Linked DNA regions of Homo sapiens. The protein of the gene in region 3 interacts with the protein of the main gene of each other region in a biochemical or structural test. Each region holds a gene or a part of one and is shown on either strand. Other genes may lie near its edges. The genes, in order: RXFP1, RXFP4 and RLN3.

Region 1 (7,112 bases), on a different chromosome or scaffold from region 3:
TCTGAGGAACCCCCATATTGTTCTCCGTTCTCCATAGTGCCTATACTAATTTACATTCCCGCCAATAACAGTTCCCTTTTCTCCAGATTCTCATCAGCATTTGTTACTTTTTGGTCTTTTTGATAATAGCCATCCATCCAACGTTGGAGTAAGATGATACCTCATTGTGGTTTTAATTTGCATTTCCTTGATCATTAGTGAGGTTGAACATTTTTTCAAGCATAGGTTGGCCATTTCTATGTCTTCTTTTTTTTTTTTTTTTTTTTGGAGACAGAGTCTCGCTCTGTCGCCCCCAGGCTGGAGTGCAGTGGCACGATCTGGGCTCACTGCAAGCTCCGCCTCCCAGGTTCACGCCATTCTCCTGCCTCAGCCTCCCGAGTAGCTGGGACTACAGGAGCCCGCCACCACGCCTGGCTAATTTTTTGTATTTTTAGTAGAGATGGGGTTTTACCATATTAGCCAAGATGGTCTCAATATCCTGACCTCGTGATCCACCCACCTCGGCCTCCCAAAGTGCTGGGATTACAGGTGTGAGCCACCGCGCCCAGCCTTGTATGTCTTCTTTTGAGAAATATCTGTTCAGATCATTTGCCTACTTTTTAATGGGATGTTTTCTTTTCTTTTTTTCTTTTCTTTTTTTTTCTTTCATTGGTGTTGAAATAACATCATAACTTCAATAACAAAAAGCCACGGAAGCACAGAAAAGAAAACACTTAACTCTTCCCCTGAGGGATAGAAAGCAGTCACTTGCAGCACAATAGGAGCTGTGTAACTGCATTTACGTATACTAACCATTGCGAGTACGATAACGGTTTCTCTGGAGGGATTCATTCTCTTGATCACATCTAACAGTTTGTATTCTAAGACATGTCTAACACTTGTTATGTTTATTATGCCTATTTGCTACTCTCACCCACACATTCTTTAACAATGAAATCAAGCTAATGATAATTGGATGTAAGTTTAAAGTTTCAGAATCCCTAATGTTTTAGTCCTCTCAATTTCATCTTAAGACATTTTCTTTCTACCGATAAAATGTAGGAAATAAATATGAATGTATGGTGACACTGAATTAAATGGAAAATCTTATTTTACTTTCTCTTTGTACACCAGATATTTTAAGAAATTCCAGTACTGTGGGTATGCACCACATGTTCGCAGCTGTAAACCAAACACTGATGGAATTTCATCTCTAGAGAATCTCTTGGCAAGCATTATTCAGAGAGTATTTGTCTGGGTTGTATCTGCAGTTACCTGCTTTGGAAACATTTTTGTCATTTGCATGCGACCTTATATCAGGTCTGAGAACAAGCTGTATGCCATGTCAATCATTTCTCTCTGCTGTGAGTATTTCCTGGTTAAAGGAGAATTGTAGTTTTGAAATATACAAAAGCTTTATTATTAGAAAATAAGTTGTGTGAGTGGTAGAATTATGGAATTTTACATTTTTCTCCTTTTTGCTTGTATGCTGTTTTCACATTTTCTACAAAGAAAATAGAATTACTTTAGCAATAAAAAAATATGTTTTTTAAACTAGGAAATTTAATCACCTTATGCAAATTAAGGAAGCTTTCATTTATTAGTTCTCTCTCATACAGTGGCTCCGAAGGCACAATATTTTGTTGACGCATCTAAAATCTTTTACTACAAATAAAATTGCAACCTCCTATGGTCACAATTTTACATGCAGACCTATACTTACTTTTTTATGTGTATGTCCAGTTCACAGATATTGACTTAACAACTACATGTTTTCCTGATCTCTGAGCTACTAGAAGTTTTTTCCACTCTAACTGAAATGTGTAAATAAGAAAATATTTTTAGGGAGTATTCATTTTTTCAAAAAGTGTGCGCAATGTAATGGCAAGGTGTTATGTTAAATGAACACTGCAAAGAAAAATAAGGAAGAAACCAGTCCTCAGGATGTTTGTAGTCTAGGTCAAGTGTTCTAGAATTTATCCATGCTCCCTCAAGCAAGTAAAGCATCAATCTACATGAGGTTCTACTTTTGTATGTGTGCTGCCCCCATGTGCTGTCCCCATCCTTATTCAAAGTCTAATGTCTAAATGTTTTTTTTTTATTGCAAGCTATGTAAGAAACAGAACTCAGAAGCCATTTACTATTTTGTATTGCTAGCTACAAAATTTTTAGTAAGTTCAATTTCCGTGGTGAAGCCTAGACTGTAACTTCAGAGTTAAAGGCTTAGGGTCAGCCTTGTGATTTATACAGTGATGTGATTTTAGGGATTTTGTGTAGAATGCTTGTGCGATCCAAAAATCTCACCCACTTTCTGATATGTAACGTTTGCTTAAAAAGAAATATGCCAAGTAGTGTAAGAGAGCTAATTCCTGGGATCGGAGACCCTAAAAAGAGACAGAAAAAGATGTAAAAATTGAAAGAGAGAGAAAACAGTTTTGCTTAGACCAACTCTGGTAAGTAATTTAAGCCCCTTAAAATTGTACTGACTGCAAAGCAGTTCATAATTATACATATCTCTTAAATTATAGGCTTCAGAATTCAGTCATTATTCTATCATAGGAACTTGTGAATTACTTTCTCCAAGATTTTATATGACACCTTGAGCTTGTTGCGTTGGGAGAATTTCAGTGGAAGAGCAGAACCAAGTAATGCCATCCTCATCTGAGTCCCTAACTGAATGCTCTACGTGATTGCATTTTGTTCATTTATTCGACACTTCTATGTGATGGGTCTAGAACAATAGACAAGATCTGTGCTGTTAGAGACTTGCACTTTAAAGGAAAATGAAGAAATGATTGCATAATTAACTGTAGAGAGTAACTTTGAGAGTGGTTACCAAAGAGAGTCTATGAATAGATCCTCATCTGTAAATGAATTATTAGGAGAATAAAAATTACCTCTTCCTAAGTTGGAAGAAACTTGACTATTTTTTCTAGCATTAAAAATATTATTGCTTATTGATGATTTTATGATACCTATTTATTTCTCTAAATTTGTGAAACTATGACTCCTCTAGGTGCCGACTGCTTAATGGGAATATATTTATTCGTGATCGGAGGCTTTGACCTAAAGTTTCGTGGAGAATACAATAAGCATGCGCAGCTGTGGATGGAGAGTACTCATTGTCAGCTTGTAGGATCTTTGGCCATTCTGTCCACAGAAGTATCAGTTTTACTGTTAACATTTCTGACATTGGAAAAATACATCTGCATTGTCTATCCTTTTAGATGTGTGAGACCTGGAAAATGCAGAACAATTACAGTTCTGATTCTCATTTGGATTACTGGTTTTATAGTGGCTTTCATTCCATTGAGCAATAAGGAATTTTTCAAAAACTACTATGGCACCAATGGAGTATGCTTCCCTCTTCATTCAGAAGATACAGAAAGTATTGGAGCCCAGATTTATTCAGTGGCAATTTTTCTTGGTAAGAAACTAAGAAACTAATGTTCACAAATTTTTATTTCAAATCTTCCAACCAGTTTTTGTTAGTAAGAATGAGGGTGAATTCTATCAGAATCCCCAGCAAGGATTTTCCTCCCCAAATTATACTCTGATATAAATTCCAACCTGACACAGCTTAATAAAAGACACTAAACACCTGTATTTCATGTATTCACCCTAAACATGCTAAGCAACATATGTTTTGGCTCTTTGTTTTACAATATGAACATAATGATATTTATTATCTTTTCAAATTCATGGCAACACACATCTTTGGCTTGTGAGTATATATACAACTGTTCTAAATCAGCAATGTAAAAATATTTTCAGAGTACAGCAAAAAGTAACTGAATTAGAAAAAAATCACTAGGCCAGGCACAATGGCTTGTGCTATAATCTCAGTACTTTGGGAGGCCAAGGTGGGAGGATCACTTGAGGCCAGGAGTTGAGACCAGCCTGGGCAACATAGCAAGACCCCATCTCTACAAAATTATTTTTAAAAAATTAGCTGGTGTGAGGCCAGGCACGGTGGCTCATACCTGTAATCCCAGCACTTTGGGAGGCCGAGGCGGGCCAATCATAAGGTCAGGAGTTCAAGACCAGCCTGACCAATATGGTAAAACCCCATCTCTACTAAAAATAGAAAAATTAGCCGGGCATGGTGGCACGCACCTGTAGTCCCAGCTACTCGGGAGGCTGAGGCAGGAGAATTGCTTGAACGCAGAAGGCAGAGTTGCAGTGAGGCAAGATAGTGCCACTGCACTCCAGCCCGAGCAACACAGCGAGACTCCATCTCAAAAAAAAAAAAATTAGCTGGTGTGATGGCATGCACCTGTACTCCCAGCTACTTGGAAGGCTGAGGCAGGAGGATTGCTTGAGCCCAGGAGTTTGAGGCTGCAGTGAGCTATGATTGTACCACTGCACTTCAGTCAGTGACAGAGCAAGAACCCATCTCTAAAAAAATTAAAAATAAAACATCACTAATACTAGAAAGCTTAAAAACCCAAGATATTCATTGAATTACTGTAATTTCAATATCTCATTTTAAAAGTAAACATTTTATCATTCTTCACTACTTCCACAAAACCTCATCTCAAAAAAATTCATGATTTTTGTGGACTTTAGTAATTCTTTGTGAAGAAAAAACCCACACATTATAGTCTTTGTATCTTTAGTAATAACATCTTTGTATCTTTAATAATAAAAATGTTTTATTTATGTTTGTTCATTTTGAAAGAAATATTTCTATGCATTAATAATACTGTTTGTATTCCAAATAGGTATTAATTTGGCCGCATTTATCATCATAGTTTTTTCCTATGGAAGCATGTTTTATAGTGTTCATCAAAGTGCCATAACAGCAACTGAAATACGGAATCAAGTTAAAAAAGAGATGATCCTTGCCAAACGTTTTTTCTTTATAGTATTTACTGATGCATTATGCTGGATACCCATTTTTGTAGTGAAATTTCTTTCACTGCTTCAGGTAGAAATACCAGGTACAATATTTTTTAATCTCCTTAAAGAAATAATAAATCTGTTTTTACAGTGTTCTTTTAAGGAAAACAATTAAAATTCTTAACACTAAACAATTCAAAGAATTGTACATCAGATCCGAGCACAGTGGCTCATGCCTATAATCCCAGCACTCTGGGAGGCCAAGACGGGCAGCTCACTTGAGGTCAGGAGTTTGAGACCAGCCTGGCCAACATGGGGAAACCCCATCTCTGCTAAAAATACAAAAACTAGCTGGGCATGGTGGTGCACCGCTGCAGTCCCAACTACTCAGGAGGCTAAGGCATGAGAATTGCTTGAACTCAGGAGGCAGAGGTGGCAGTGAGCCGAAATTGCACCACTACACTCCAGCCTGGGTGACAGAGCCAAAAAAAAAAAATTGTAAAAATTGTAAGTCAGAGTTGTAGGTACTTTTGGCTCTGCTCATCAATATAACATTTACTGGGGAAGAACTGTTTATTTTTTTCCATAAATGCCTAACAATACAATTACTATGGAACAAAGAAGCAATGAGTGACCAAAATAAATTCCACACGGTGTTGAAATTCTAATCATCACATGCTTAAGGTGACTAGAAAGGAAAACAGGCCAAAACAATTCTTAAATAATTACTGCATTTTTTTTCAAAATGTAAGAAAATTTTCTTCCTGTAATACATGCAATTTAGAGAAGATCATGCCAGAGTGTGAGAGATAATAGAAGCAAACATTCTTGGCATTTAGAAAGAACGTTGGCTGGCATGTTGCCTCACGCCTGTAATCTGGCACTTTGGGAGGCCAATGTGGGAGGATCACTTGGGCCCAGGAGTTCAAAGCTGCAGTGAGCCATGATTGCACCACTGCACTCCCGTCTGGGTGACAGAGCAAGATCCTGTCTCAAAAAAATAAAAATAAAAAATAAAAAATAAACAATGTGCATTACATCCATTAGGATGACTACTATTTTAAAAAAACACACATACAAAAAAATAAGTGTTGGTAAAGTTGTGGAGAAATTAGAATCCTTGTGAATTGCTGGTAGAAAAATAAAATGGTACAGCTGCTATGGAAGACAATATGGCAGTCCCTCAAAAATTTAAACCATCCAATGGTTTAGTTACCATCCAATGTGGAAATGGTCCAGTTACCATCCAATGTGGAAATTCTCCTTCTAAGGAAAAAACCAAAACAATTGAAAGCAGGGACTCAAAGAGATATTTGTACACCCATGTTCATTGCAGCATTATTCACAATAGCCAAAAGTTAGAAGCAATACAAATGTCCATAGATTGGTAAATGGATAAACAAAATGTGGTACATACGCACAATGGATTAGTATTTAGTCTTGTAAAGGAAGGAGATTTTGACAAATGCTGCAATATAGATGAACCTTGAAGATACTGTGCTAAGTGAAATAAGTTAGACACAAAAGGACAAATATTTTATTTCACTTACATGACGTTTCTGATATAGTTAGATTCATAGAACATAGAACGGTGTTTTCTAGGGGTTGGGGGAAGGGAGAATGGAGAGTGTTTAATAGGCATAGAGTTTCAGTTTGGGAGATGAAATCATTCTGGAGATGGATGGTGGTTATGGTACAATGATATGAACGTACTTAATGCCACTGAGCTGTCCACTTAAAATGGTTACATGGTAAATTTTATGTTATGCATATTTTACCACAATGAAAATGCATATATCCTGTTAAATATATATAAATATATATATATATATATAATGCAGTTTGTATTCACATTTTAAAATTTTCATGTAGCAGGGCGCAGTGGCTCACACCTGAAATCCCAGCACTTTGGGAGGCTGAGGTGGGCAGATCACTTGAGGTCAGGAGTTGGAGACCAGCCTGGCCAACATGGTGAAACCCCATCTCTACTCAAAATACAAAAATTTAGCTGCGCCTGGTGGCATGCACTTGTAGTCCCAGCTACTTGGGAGGCTGAGGCATGAGAATGCTTGAACTTGGGAGGCAGAGACTTCAGTGAGCGGAGATTGTGCCATTGCACTACAACCTGGGTGATAGAGCAAGACTCTATCTCAGGAAAAAAAAACAATTGTATATATTAATACATAATTTTAATTGTGTTCTGTACTATGGATGATGGTGATAGTATCTTACATTTTATGAACAACAAAAAGAAGGCCAAGTGGTGAAGACTGATTGAACCCAGGAGATTG
Region 2 (6,392 bases), on a different chromosome or scaffold from region 3:
CCGGCCCCCCTTATTTTCTTAAGTTAAATGTTTAGTTCACTTATTTATAATTCTTTTTTTTTTTTTTGAGATGGAGTTTCACTCTTGTTGCCCAGGCTCGAGTGCAATGGTGCTATCTCAGCTCTCTGCAACCTTCACCTCCCAGGTTCAAGTGATTCTCCTGCCTCAGCTTCCTGAGTAGCTGGGATTACAGGTGTCTGCCACCATGCCTGGCTAATTTCTGTATTGTTAATAGAGATGGAGTTTCACCATGTTGACCAGGGTGGTCGTGAATTTCTGACCTCAAGTGATCCTCCTGCTTCGGCCTCCCAAAGTGTTGGGATTCCAGGTGTGAGCCCCGTGCCCAGCCTTATAATTCTCATAAAAGTCTTAATTTCACCAATAACATTTCTCTTTTGATGGCCAAGTGAGGTGACTCATGCCTATAATCCCAGCACTTTGGGATTCCGAGGCTGGTGGATCACTTGAGGCCAGGGCAACAGAGTGAGACCCCATCTCCACAAAAAATAAAAATTAGCCAGTGTGGTGGCACTTCTGTAGTCTCAGCTACTCAGGAGGCAGAGGTGGCAGAATCACTTGAATCGAGAAGGTTGAGGCTACAGTGAGACATGATCACACCACTGCACTCCAGCCTGGGTGACAGAGCAAAGAAACATAAAATAATAAAACATTTCTCTATTGATACAACGGAATCTGATTTTCTAAACTCAATTCAATAGCACTTTGTTCTACTGTTAATTGAAAAACTCTCTCTAAAGTGAGATACGTTAGGCTGAGGTCATTTTTCCTTTCTGTTGGGTGCATGGTCAAAAAATTGACATATGAATCAATTATTCTTTCCTAGTGGTCATTTAGGTATTATTAGGTCATTTACTACCAACTCTAAAGCAGTGACACCATGGAGAGCACATAAAATCCATAGAGCTAGGTCCCATAACCTCTCTGTCAGTCTCCTCTCCTTGCTACTCCCCCTGTGTTTCAGTGGCACTTTCTAGCTAAGATTCAGTCCCCTTTTCTCCAGATGGTGGTGCTACATTCCCATACCTGTCTCCAGAGTATCTCCCTCAAACTCATTTAGATCAGCCCAACCTTGGAAAATGCCAAACCGGGTCATGCTCTTTTGGCCTAATATTCTTTCCCACAGCAGTAGGAGTTGTGATGGGAAAAAAAGAAAAGATGGAGGGTGGGCTTTCTCAGTGTCTCCAGTATTCACCACATCACCCCAGGGGTACTACCTCAAGCATTTATTGAATAATTTTTCCAAACAAGGAGATTTCCTGTGAGGGATTCTGATGTCACCTCTAAAAATAGTTTTAGAAATATTTTTCCACTTTCTTACAAGGGGAAATCTATCAAAAAGAATAATGGAGCAGCTATTCAAAAAGAATAATGGAGCAGCTATTCAAAAAGAATTAGAGTGTATAGCCCCATTTCTAGCCCCTATGAGGCCTGGCTATACTTTGTGCCATGTGCTTGGATTGCCATGAGGTTACCCAGTGTTTTTTTGTTTTTTGTGGGTTTTTTTTTTTTTTTGAGACGGGGGTCTCACTCTGTCACCCAGGCTGGAGTGCGGTGGCATGATCACAGCTCACTCCAGCTTTGACCTCCCAGTCTCAGGTGATCCTCCCACATCACAGGTGCCCGCCACCACGCCCAGCTAATTTTTTGTTGTTGTTGTTTTGTATTTTTAGTAGAGTAGCTGGAACCAAGTAGCTGGAACCACAGGCATGAACCACCATGCCTGGCTAATTTTTTGTTATCTTTTGTAGAGATGGGGTTTTGCCATGTTGCCCAGACTGGTCTTGAATTACTGGGCTCAAGCAATCCATTCGCCTCAGCCTCCCAAAGTGTCACCATGACCAGCTGATTTTTTTTTTTTTTTTTTTTTGAGACGGAGTCTCACTCTGTCGCCCAGGCTGGAGTGCAGTGGCACGATCTCGGCTCACTGCAAGCTCCACCTCCCGGGTTCATACCATTCTCCTGCCTCAGCCTCCCGAGTAGCTGGGACTACAGGCACCTGCCACCACACCCGGCTAATTTTTGTATTTTTTTTTTTTAGAGATGGGGTTTCACCATGTTAGCCAGGATGGTCTCGATCTCCTGACATGCCTGTAATCCCAGCACTTTGGGAGGCCAAGGCAGGAGGATCACCTGAGGTCATTTCAAGAATATTTTTGATGCTAGGCGTGGTGGCTTATGGCTGTAATCCCAGCACTTTGGGAGGGTGAGGTGAGAGGGTTGCTTGAGCCCAGGAGTTCAAGACAATCCTGGGCAACATAGGGATACCCCATCTCTCCTAAAAATACAAAAATTAGCCTGTGTGGTAGCACATTCCTGTGGCTGAGGTAGGAGGATCACCTGAGCCTGGGGAGGTCGAGGCACTGAGCCAAGATTGTGCCACTGCACTCCAGCCTGGGTGACAGAGTGAGACCTCTTCTCAACCAAAAAAAAAAGAAAAAAAGAAAAAAAATTTTTTTTTTTTTTTGAGATGGAGTCTCGCTCTGTCGCCCAGGCTGGAGTGCAGTGGTGTGATCTCAGCTCACCAAAATCTCTGCCTCCCGGGTTCAAGTGATTCTCCTGCCTCAGCCTCCCGAGTAGCTGTGATTACAGGCACTCGCCACCACGCGCCACTAATTTTGTATTTTTAGTAGAGACGGGCTTTCCCCATGTTGGTCAGGCTGGTCTTGAACTCCCGACCTCAGGTGATTCGCTCACCTCGGCCTCCCAAAGTGCTGGGATTACAGGCATGAGCCACCTCGTCTGGCCAAGCAGTTATCTTAATTGCCAGATTAGCAGGGTGATTCTGGGTGGGCAGAGGAGTAGACATGGCCCCGAGAGACAGTGATGACACAGTCACACAGGAGCAGCCATGAGGCCAGAAGGTAGCCTGTGGGGCTCACCTGACCTTGGGCTGGGCACTCCCCTTCTGCCACCCCCTTTATACTCATCCCTGGTTCGAAAGCCCCAACATGTTGGCACCCAGCCTGTATCACTCTCACCTCTGGGTTTCTCCTATGTGTTCACAAGCCCACTGCTGATTTATTGTCGCAAAGGGCCCCTCTCTTCCCTCAGCACTCCAAAGGAACTGAACATCGAACGTTATCTTAATTAGCTGGCAGAGGGCAAGAAGGGGCTGAATATATTGGAATCCTTGAGAAAGCCTTACTCTTTTACCTATCCACCTCCTGCCTTCTCTTTGTCCCCACCTCAGCTCCTTCTGCAGTAGGTAGAGATGTAGGCAATGAAAGGGGAGGGCCCAATGAAGCATTTTTTTTTTCCAGTTATGATTGAGATCATGGGGAGACAGGATGAGGTGTGGTGAGGGCGTATCTCAGGATCCTTAGCTCTGACATGGGGTTTGCAGGAGAGAGTAGGGGGACCGCTGAGCTCTGTCCACAGACTAGAGCAGGAAAGGGGGGAAAGGCGGCGATAGAGGTTAGCAGGAATGTTTAATTATCAGGAGCAGGAACAGAACTGAGGGCATGCCCAGGTCCACACAGGCCCTCATAGGCCCAGTGTTCCCAGTGGGGAGGAAACAGGAAGCTGTGACTTCCTCTCTCTTTTCCCTCCCTGCTCTTAGCCTCAAGGTCACTGCTGCTGAGATGAATTCCAACCTGTTTTAGTTGGCACTGTTCCCTGGGCATGGTAATAGCCTCTCAGTACCCTTCTGCCACAAACACCCCAAACTTCTCCTTTGAAATAATATTCATACAAATTGCTATTTCACATGTGTTCTCTCATTGCATCATGCCACTCCTGTGAAGCAGACTTACCTGAAAATTTTAAGCAAGAAAACAGGCTTAGGGGAGTAAAGTAACTCTCCCAGTCACACGGCTAGTGAGCAGCAGGTCTGGGACTCCGCAGCCTCCGCTCTTTCCTCTCTTGGACACCCATGCTGATTCCCTGCCTCTATGCCACCTCCCAGGCCCCTTGCTTTGGGCCCCAAGGGAACACTTTCTGCAGAGGAGGGAGGCCTCTGCACTGTTAGGAACAGAGGCAGCTCTAGTTTGGTTCCTGTCATCTCTGGGACAGGGAACCTCCAGCTCTCTCCCTGGGGTGGAGGCTTGGGGCTGCCCTCCATAGCGGGGTAACTCTCCCTTCTCCCCTCCCTCTCTGCCATTTAGAGCCCCTCTTACAGGCGGGCGCATGCACATATACCCTGGCATTCAGGCTGTGCCTCGCCCTGCCCCACCTACCACCAATCTTGACCAACAGGAAGGTGGTGGGTTGTCCTTTCCACACCCCTCCCTCTGAGGTGTGGGCGTGGGCCAGGGCTCACCAGAGGCCCCAGAGAAGCACTTAATTCTACAGCCTCCTTCCTAGAGCCTTCAGTGGCCTCTGCCAGTCTGGCAGACACTTGCAGACCTCTCTTCTCAGCACCACCAATCTCTGATGCCCTGCGATGCCCACACTCAATACTTCTGCCTCTCCACCCACATTCTTCTGGGCCAATGCCTCCGGAGGCAGTGTGCTGAGTGCTGATGATGCTCCGATGCCTGTCAAATTCCTAGCCCTGAGGCTCATGGTTGCCCTGGCCTATGGGCTTGTGGGGGCCATTGGCTTGCTGGGAAATTTGGCGGTGCTGTGGGTACTGAGTAACTGTGCCCGGAGAGCCCCTGGCCCACCTTCAGACACCTTCGTCTTCAACCTGGCTCTGGCGGACCTGGGACTGGCACTCACTCTCCCCTTTTGGGCAGCCGAGTCGGCACTGGACTTTCACTGGCCCTTCGGAGGTGCCCTCTGCAAGATGGTTCTGACGGCCACTGTCCTCAACGTCTATGCCAGCATCTTCCTCATCACAGCGCTGAGCGTTGCTCGCTACTGGGTGGTGGCCATGGCTGCGGGGCCAGGCACCCACCTCTCACTCTTCTGGGCCCGAATAGCCACCCTGGCAGTGTGGGCGGCGGCTGCCCTGGTGACGGTGCCCACAGCTGTCTTCGGGGTGGAGGGTGAGGTGTGTGGTGTGCGCCTTTGCCTGCTGCGTTTCCCCAGCAGGTACTGGCTGGGGGCCTACCAGCTGCAGAGGGTGGTGCTGGCTTTCATGGTGCCCTTGGGCGTCATCACCACCAGCTACCTGCTGCTGCTGGCCTTCCTGCAGCGGCGGCAACGGCGGCGGCAGGACAGCAGGGTCGTGGCCCGCTCTGTCCGCATCCTGGTGGCTTCCTTCTTCCTCTGCTGGTTTCCCAACCATGTGGTCACTCTCTGGGGTGTCCTGGTGAAGTTTGACCTGGTGCCCTGGAACAGTACTTTCTATACTATCCAGACGTATGTCTTCCCTGTCACTACTTGCTTGGCACACAGCAATAGCTGCCTCAACCCTGTGCTGTACTGTCTCCTGAGGCGGGAGCCCCGGCAGGCTCTGGCAGGCACCTTCAGGGATCTGCGGTTGAGGCTGTGGCCCCAGGGCGGAGGCTGGGTGCAACAGGTGGCCCTAAAGCAGGTAGGCAGGCGGTGGGTCGCAAGCAACCCCCGGGAGAGCCGCCCTTCTACCCTGCTCACCAACCTGGACAGAGGGACACCCGGGTGAAGGGCGCAAGCTGAACACACTCCTCTTTCTGAGATCCACCAAGTGTAGGATCCTTGAGTCCTGGGGAGAAGCTGCCCTCTCTGCCAGGCTGCAGTGCCCTCAGGGAAAAGTCTGATCTTTGATCCCCAACTCTGGGTGTGGTGAATGGGGGAGGCGGGGGCTCAGATCAGAGCTGGATGTGACAAAGCTTAAGTCTTTATTTGGAGATGGGAAAGAAGAGGATCTGAGAATAAACCTCTGGATTATCCACAAATTGTCTTGACCTTTTATCCCAGTTCCACCTCCAGTTCAGTATGGAACAAAAGGATTCGTTGCTCCATTTCTGCTTTCTGCAAGAATACCTAGGAAAACTTCCCTAAGGGTTCTAGGCTAATGAATCAGAGGTCAGTGCCCATCTCTCTCTGTACCCACCCCCCACCTCAAAACAGGGTATCCCTTGTCTTTCTCCGGTATCAAGGCCAAAAATGCCAGCTTCCCCTGTCCTCACCTTACCATCTCAGTGGTGACCACTGAAACTTGCTGCCTGCAGAGGCCTCAGCTGCAAAAGCTGTAGTTCCCTTGAAGGGATGCCAGGTGTGGGGTATTGCTGGAATTTCCAGCACCTGCCAGGCCCTGGGTGTAAAACCCTGGTGCTGACGGGAGTGCCTGTGTGTCTCCCTTTAAATCAGGATTTGAAAGAAGTGAAGATAATGACAAGTCAAAGACATGGGTGGGGTGAAGGGAGGTGAGCGATTAAAGAGGGGAGGGGGCTGGGAGAACAGGCTGCAGGTAGAGCCAGAAAAGCAGAGACCTCAGAAAGTGGTGCTAGTCCTCCCTGCCCCAAATGCAAAGCCCAGAGTATCAATTTGAGTGTCAGAGCACCTGG
Region 3 (7,190 bases):
AGGGTCATGATAGGCTGGTCAAAGGGCAGGGTTGGATAGGTGGTGTCGGGAGACTGTGCCTGAGCCCACAGTGCCTCTGTGACTTGTAGATGAATGAATGAATGTGTGAGGCTCGAAAGACAGGTGCCCAGCCAGACACTAGTTGAGTGGATGGCAGGACTGGGGCATTGGTCCTGGTGCCCACGGCTGCCCAGCCCTCAAACTAGCAAAGGCTACTGATTTCACTTTTGCTACACCCCCACTTGCAGCAGCTGCTGGAAAGGCCAGCCAGGACATCTCGGCTGCCCCGAAGAACCCCAGGGGTTCCTTGCCAGCTGGGTCGCCCCCTGTAAAAGGCCTGGGGTGACTTGGTCAGGGCCAGCCACTCGCTGGACCCCATGGCCTCATCCAGCTCGCCTGCCAGACTGTCTTCATCAGCATCTGCATCCGGGAAGGTATCTCCTGCAAAAGATGAACAGAGTTAGTGATCAGGGCTCAGCTGCTGCTGCACCCACAGTCATGGCTCCTGGCCAGTCTAGCTCTGATCTTGTGACAACAGTCATAGACATAGTTCAGAGTTTTTATTCCACCCAGTCCTGGGTTCAAATTCTGGCTCTGCCAGAGTAGGTGGGATTACAGGTGTCTGCCAGCAGGCCTGGCTGATTTTTGTATTGTTATAGAGATGGGGTTCACCATGTTGTTCAGGCTGGTCGCAAACTCCTGACCTCAAGTGATGTGCCCACCTCAGCCACCCAAAGTGCTGGGATTACAGGCGTGAGCCACCGCACCCAGCCCTGTCATTTATTTCTCCTTACTCTTTATTAATTGAGGACCTGGTACATTTGGGAGCTGGGCTGACTGAGCATGAATCCAGCTTCTCTAATCGTGAGCAAGTAAATTTACTTCTTGGAGCCTCAATGTTCTTTTCTGCAAAGTGGAAAAAAATAATTACTCCAACCTTCTCAAGTTTTATAAGGAGTTAATATTCATTAAAAAAAAAAACTTAGAACAATGTCTGGAACATGATGAGCACTCAAAAATGACTATTGAGTCCGGGCACGGTGTCTCACACCTGTAATCCCAGCACTTCCAGGGGCACATGCTGGAGGATCACCAGAACCAGGAGTTCAAGAACAGCCTGGACAACACAGCACTACCCTGTCTCTACAAATAATAAAAAGTTAGACATGTTGGCACAAGCCTGTAGTCCCAGCTACTCAGGAGGCTGAGGCAGGAGAATTGCTTGAGCCCAAGAGGTTGAAGCTGCAGTGAGCTGTGATCACACCACTGCACTCCAGTCTGGGCAACAGAGCAAGACCCTGTCTCAAAAATAATAATAATAATAATAATAATAATAATAATAATTTATTGATCACTTACTTTGTGTCAAACAACGTTTTAAGTGCTTTAGCAGGTTAACTTCTTTATTCTTCTCAGTGATAACCAGTTGAGGTGGGTGCAGTTATCACCCGTATTTTCCAGAGGAGACCACTGAGGCAGGACTCAGTAAAGAATTTGCATGGCTGGGCGCGGTGGCTCATGCCTGTAATCCCAGCACTTTGGGAGGCTGAGGTGGGAGGATCACCTGAGGTCAGGAGTTGGAGACCAGCCTGGCCAACATGGTGAAACTGTCTCTACTAAAAATAAAAAGATTAGCGAGGTATGGTGGCACACATCTGTAATCCCAGCTACTTGGGAGGCTGGAGGCACGAGAATCGCTTGAACCCAGGTGATGGAGGTTACAGTGAGCCAAGATTGCACCACTGCACTCCAGCCTGGGCAACAGAATGAGATTCTGTCTCAAAAAAAAAAAAAATAGTAGCACATGAACACACAACTATTACATTGTAGAGCTACTATCTGAATCCAAGTGGTGTGTCTTCTATGTCCACGCTCATACCTATCCTCCTTCTCACCATCATGAATATCTATTTGCCAGGTCCCTGCCCCTCATGAAGCTAGGTCTTCTGTTCCCTCTGACTCTCCTGATGGATCCCAGATTGTGCCGCTGCCCTGCTGAGACTCTGCCCTAATCTGTTTTGATTTAATCATACCACTTAATCCTGCAAGATTCAGGAACTGTGTCTCCCATTTGAAGATAAAGACACTCAGAGACTCTAATCTCAGCACTTAGGGAGGCCGAGGTGGGAGGATCACTTGAGCCCAGGAGTTCGAGACCAGCCTAGGCAACATAGTGAGACCCCTGTTTCTACAAAAAAAAAATTTAAAACTAGCCAGGCATGGTGTCAGGTGCCTGTGGTCTCAACTACTCTGGAGGCGGAGGCAGGAGAATCACTTGAGCCTGGGAGGTCGAGGCTGCAATGAGCAGTGATTGGGCCACTGCATTCAAGCCTGGGCAATGGAGTGAGACCACATCTCCAAAAAAAAGACACTCAGAGACGGAAGAAAAACCAACTTGCTGGGGAGAGGTCATGCATTAGGTGACAAACCCAGCTATGTGTATACCACACCCTTCACATTACCTGCTGGAAAGGGTTGGAAAACACTTCGGTGTTGTCTTTGCAAATGGCACGCTCCCCGCCCCCACCTGTCCTCAGACTTCCAGCCCCCATGGATGGCTTGCAACACCCCATCCCAGCTCTGCAGCTCTGCTAACTCCTGAGCCCTTGTTTCAAGGCTGGGCAGGTGTCCCTGGCTGAATGTGGCAGGACAGGGACCCTCCTCCTCCAGCAACCTCCTCTTATCTCTGTCCTTAGCTCCTGGGACCCATCCAGCCACCTGTTCCCCTTCTACATCCACTCTCTCCCCAGCCTCACCCATAGCCTCGTGGGCCAGGATGTCTGATCGTCTCCACCGGGAGCCCCCGCAGGTGAAGATGACTGCTCGGATGAATTCTCGGCCGCAAAGCCTGACCCCGTAAGGCGCTGCCCGGGCCTCAGCTCCCGGCCACAGCTCCCCGGTCAGCACCCATACCGCCAGGAGCAGCAGCAGCATGTACCTGGCCATGCTGGACGGAGATGCTTTGAACGTGAGAGTGGGCCAGTGTCTCTGCTGCCTCTTGGCCCCCCATTTATACATCGTGGCTCCCCCACACTCTGCCTGAAGAAAGCTGAGTGCCTCCCTTATCTTCTCCAGCAGAGGGGAGACAGGCACGGCCCCCCCAACCCGACCTTTCTCATGTCCCCAGCGAAGTGATAACCTTTCGCTAGGGACAGGGTGATGTGGCCCAGCTTATTGTCAACATCATTGACAGAGAGGCGAGAAGGTCTCCAACCTGCAGAGACCAGAAACGCATAATCCCAAAAGGCGGGGTAAGGTGACACAACCAGATCCCCACAACGTTAGGGTCCTGGACCTCTTCGAAGATCATAATAGCAGTGAACGCCCAGTGCAGTATGTGCTACGAGGCCAGGCACACTACTGTAAGCATTTTATTGTTTATTTGTTTGTTTGTTTGTTTAGATGGAGTCTCGCTCTGTCACCCAGGCTAGAGGTACAGTCCCAATGGCACAATCTTGGCTCACTGCAACCTCCGCCTCCCAGATTCAAGAAATTCTCCCGCCTCAGCCTCCCAAGTAGTTGGGATTACAGGCGCCCACCACCACACCTGGCTAATTTTTGTATTTTCAGTAGAGACGGGGTTTTACCACGTTGGCCAGGCTGGTCTCGAACTCCTGGCCTCAGGTGATCCGCCTGTCTCAGCCTCCCAAAGTGCTGGGATTACAGATATGAGCCACAGCCCTCAGCTGCTCAAAGCATTTTATATCTCTGTAATGTATTTGATTCTCCCAACAACCCAGGGTAATGGTTCTCAAATGTGAGTGAGCTTCAGAATCTTTGGGTAGGCTTGTTAAAACAGAAATCAGGCCAGGCGCGGTGGCTCACGCCTGTAATCCCAGCACTTTGGGAGGCCATGGCAGGAGGATTACCTGAGGTCCGGAGTTCGAGACCAGCCTGGCCAACATGGTGAAACCCCGCCTCTACTAAAAATACAAAAAATTAGCCGGGTGTGGTGGCTCATGTCTGTAGCCCCAGCTCCTTGGGAGGCTGAGGCAGGAGAATTGCTTGAACCTGGGAGGTGGAGGTTGCAGTGAGCTGAGATGGCGCCACTGCACTTCAGCCTGGGCAACAGAGTGAGACTCTGTCTCAAAAACAAACAAACAAAACACATATCTTTGTGTCCTACCTGCAGAGCTCCTGACTCAACAGGTATGGAACATATCTAAGAATCTGCATTTCCAACCAGTTCCCAGGTGACATTGATCCTGCTGGTTCAGAAACCAGACTTTTTTTTTTTTCTTTTTTTCAGAGACAGGGTCTGGCTATGTTGCCCAGGCTGGATTGTAGTGGTGGCAACATAGCTCACTGCAGCCTTGAATTCCCGGGTTCAAATGATCCTCCCACCTCAGCCTCCTAAGTAGCTGGGACTACAGGTGTGTACCACCATGCTCAGCTAATTTTTGTATTTTTTGTAGAGATGAGACCTCACAATGTTGCCCGGGCTGGTCTCAAACTCTTGGACTCAAGGGACCCAAATGCGTCAGACTCTCGAAGTGCTGGGATTGGCTGGACACAGTGGTTCACACCTGTAATCCCAGCACTTTGGGAGGTCGAGGCGGGTGGATCACCTGAGGTCAGGAGTTTGAGACCAGCCTGGCCAACATGATGAAACCCTGTCTCTATTAAAAATATAAAAATTAGCCGGGCATGGTGGCGGGTGCCTGTAATCCCAGCTACTGAGAAGGCTGAGGCAGGAGAATCGCTTGAACCCAGGAGGCAGAGGTTGCAGTGAGCCAAGATTGTGTCATTGCACTCCAGCCTGGAGCACCACGCCCAGCCCAGAAACCACAGTTTCTTTCTTTCTTTTTTTTTTTTTTTTGAGATGGAGTCTCGCACTGTCGCCCAGGCTGGAGTGCAGTGGCATGATCTCGGCTCACTGCAAGCTCCCCACTTCCCAGGTTCACGCCATTCTCCTGCCTCAGCCTCCCGAGTAGCTGGGACTACAGGCGCCCGCCACCACGCCCGGCTAATTTTTTGTATTTTTAGTAGAGACGGGGTTTCACTGTGTTAGCCAGGATGGTCTCGATCTCCTGACCTCGTGATCCGCCCGCCTCGACCTCCCAAAGTGCTGGGATTACAGGCGTGAGACACTGCGCCCGGCGGAAACCACACTTTTAAGAGCATGGGGTTATGAATTCAGGACTAAGATAATTCTCATATTACAAATGAGGAAACGGAGACACAGAAGGGTGTCCTGAGGCAGCAGATCCTAACGTTTTTGACGCCAGAAACCGGTTTCGTGGAAGACAATTTTTCCATGGATGGAGTGTCAAGTGGATGGTTTCGGGATGATTCAAGCGTATCACTTTTTTTTTTTTTTTTTTTTTTTTTGAGATGGAGTCTTGCTGTGTCACCAGGCTGGAGTGCAATGGCGCAATCTTGGCTCACTGCAACTTCTGCCTCCCAGGTTCAAGCGATTCTCCTGCCTCAGCTTCCGAGTAGCTGGGACTACAGGCATATGCCACCACGCCCAGCTAATTTTTGTATTTTTAGTAGAGACGAGGTTTCACCATGTTGTCCAGGTTGGTCCCGATCTCTTGACCTCATGATCCGTCCACCTCGGCCTCCCAAAGTGCTGGGACTACAGGCATGAGCCACCGCGCCTGGCCAAGCGCATCACATTTATTGTGCACTTTATTTCTATTATTATTATACTGTAGTTGTATATTGAAATAATCATACAACTCACCATAATGTAAAATTAGTGGCAGTGGCCAGGCACAGTGGCTCATGCCTGTAATCCTAGAACTTTGGGCAGCTGAGGCGGGCGAGTCACTTGAGGTCAGGAGTTCGAGACCAGCCTGGCCGACATGGTCAAACCCCATCTCTACTAATAGTACAAAAATTAGCTGGGCATGGTGGCACATGCCTGTAATCCCAGTTACTCAGGAGTCTGAGGCAGGAGACTCACTTGAACCCAGGAGGCAGAGTCTGCAGTGAGCCGAGATTGAGCCACTGTGCATCAGCGTGGGCGACAGAGTGAGACTTTGTCACAAAAAATAATCATCATCATCATAATAAAATAAAAATATATATATTGAGAGGCTGGGAATGATGGCTCACGCCTGTAATTCCGGAACTTTGGGCAGCCAAGGCAGGAGGATTGCTTGAACCCAAGAGTTCCAGACCAGCCTGGGCAACAGGTGAAACCCCACCTCTACAAATAATGTAAAAATTAGCCAGGTGTGGTGGCACACATCTGTGATCCCAGCTACTCAGGAGGCTGAGGTGGGAAGATCACTTTTGCCTAAGCGTTCAAGGCTGCCATGAGCTGAGATTGCATCACTGCACTCCAGCCTGTACAACGGAGCCAAACCTTGTCTAAAAAAAAAAAAAATTGAGGCCGGGCATGGTGGCTCATGCCTGTAATCCCAGCACTTTGGGAGGCTGAGGAGGACGGATCACTTGAGGTCAAGAGTTTGAGACCAGCCTGGCCAACACGGTGAAACCCGTCTCTACTAAAAATACAAAAATTTGCTGGGCATGGTGGCAGATGCCTGTAATCCCAGCTACTCAGGAGGCTGAGGCAGGAGAATCTCTTGAACCTGGGAGTCGGAGGATGCAGTGAGCGGAGATCACGCCATTGCACTCCAGCCTGGGCAACAAGAGCGAAACTCTGTCTCAAAAAAAAAAAAAAAAAGAGAGAGATAACATCCATATAAAATAAAACTAACCAGGCCAGGTACGGTGGCTCACGTCTGTAATCCCAGCACTTTGGGAGGCCAAGGCGGGCAGATCACTTGAGTTCAGGAGTTTGAGACCAGCCTGTCCACCGTAGTGTAAAACCCAGTCTCTAACAAAAATACAAAAATTAGCCAGGTGGGAAACAGGTGGTTTACAAATGTAAACCACTGCGGCCAGTCTTTCTTTTTTAAAGAGATGAGGCCTAACTATGTTGCCCAGGCTGATCTGGAACTCCTGAGCTCAAGTGATCCTCCCCCTTTGGCCTCCCAAAGTGCTAGGACTACAGGCATGAGCCACCAGGCACAGCTATGTTAATGTCAATTTCACCTCGACTTTAAAACACAGCAAAAACAAGGGCTCTGGTAAGGGGGGCAAGCTTGGCTTCAAATTCCACCTCTGCCTCTTTCCTGCTGTGTGACCTTGGCCAAGTCACTTAAACTCTCTGTGCCTTGGTTTCCTCACTTGCAAAATGGGAAAGATTTAATGAGTGAGTCAAATTTTTACAA

The links.
Region 1: the proteins of RLN3 (region 3) and RXFP1 interact in a test that uses a peptide from one of them, tested with the Homo sapiens proteins (one study listed by BioGRID).
Region 2: the proteins of RLN3 (region 3) and RXFP4 form a complex in vitro, tested with the Homo sapiens proteins (one study listed by BioGRID).

The regions. Positions count from the first base shown.
Region 1 is NC_000004.12:158,643,796-158,650,907, forward strand, and holds part of RXFP1 (relaxin receptor 1 isoform 1 precursor), read left to right. Parts: intron 1-1,113; coding exon 1,114-1,343; intron 1,344-2,507; exon of another isoform or gene 2,508-2,886; intron 2,887-2,995; coding exon 2,996-3,406; intron 3,407-4,703; coding exon 4,704-4,922; intron 4,923-7,112. UniProt on the Homo sapiens protein: Receptor for relaxins. The activity of this receptor is mediated by G proteins leading to stimulation of adenylate cyclase and an increase of cAMP.
Region 2 is NC_000001.11:155,937,308-155,943,699, forward strand, and holds RXFP4 (relaxin-3 receptor 2), read left to right. Parts: upstream 1-4,330; 5' UTR 4,331-4,402; coding exon 4,403-5,527; 3' UTR 5,528-5,780; downstream 5,781-6,392. UniProt on the Homo sapiens protein: High affinity receptor for INSL5. Also acts as a receptor for RLN3/relaxin-3, as well as bradykinin and kallidin. Binding of the ligand inhibit cAMP accumulation.
Region 3 is NC_000019.10:14,023,961-14,031,150, reverse strand, and holds the start of RLN3 (relaxin-3 preproprotein), read right to left. Parts: upstream 3,004-7,190; 5' UTR 2,947-3,003; coding exon 2,757-2,946; intron 907-2,756; coding exon of another isoform or gene 795-906; intron 442-794; coding exon 203-441; 3' UTR 1-202. UniProt on the Homo sapiens protein: May play a role in neuropeptide signaling processes. Ligand for LGR7, RXFP3 and RXFP4.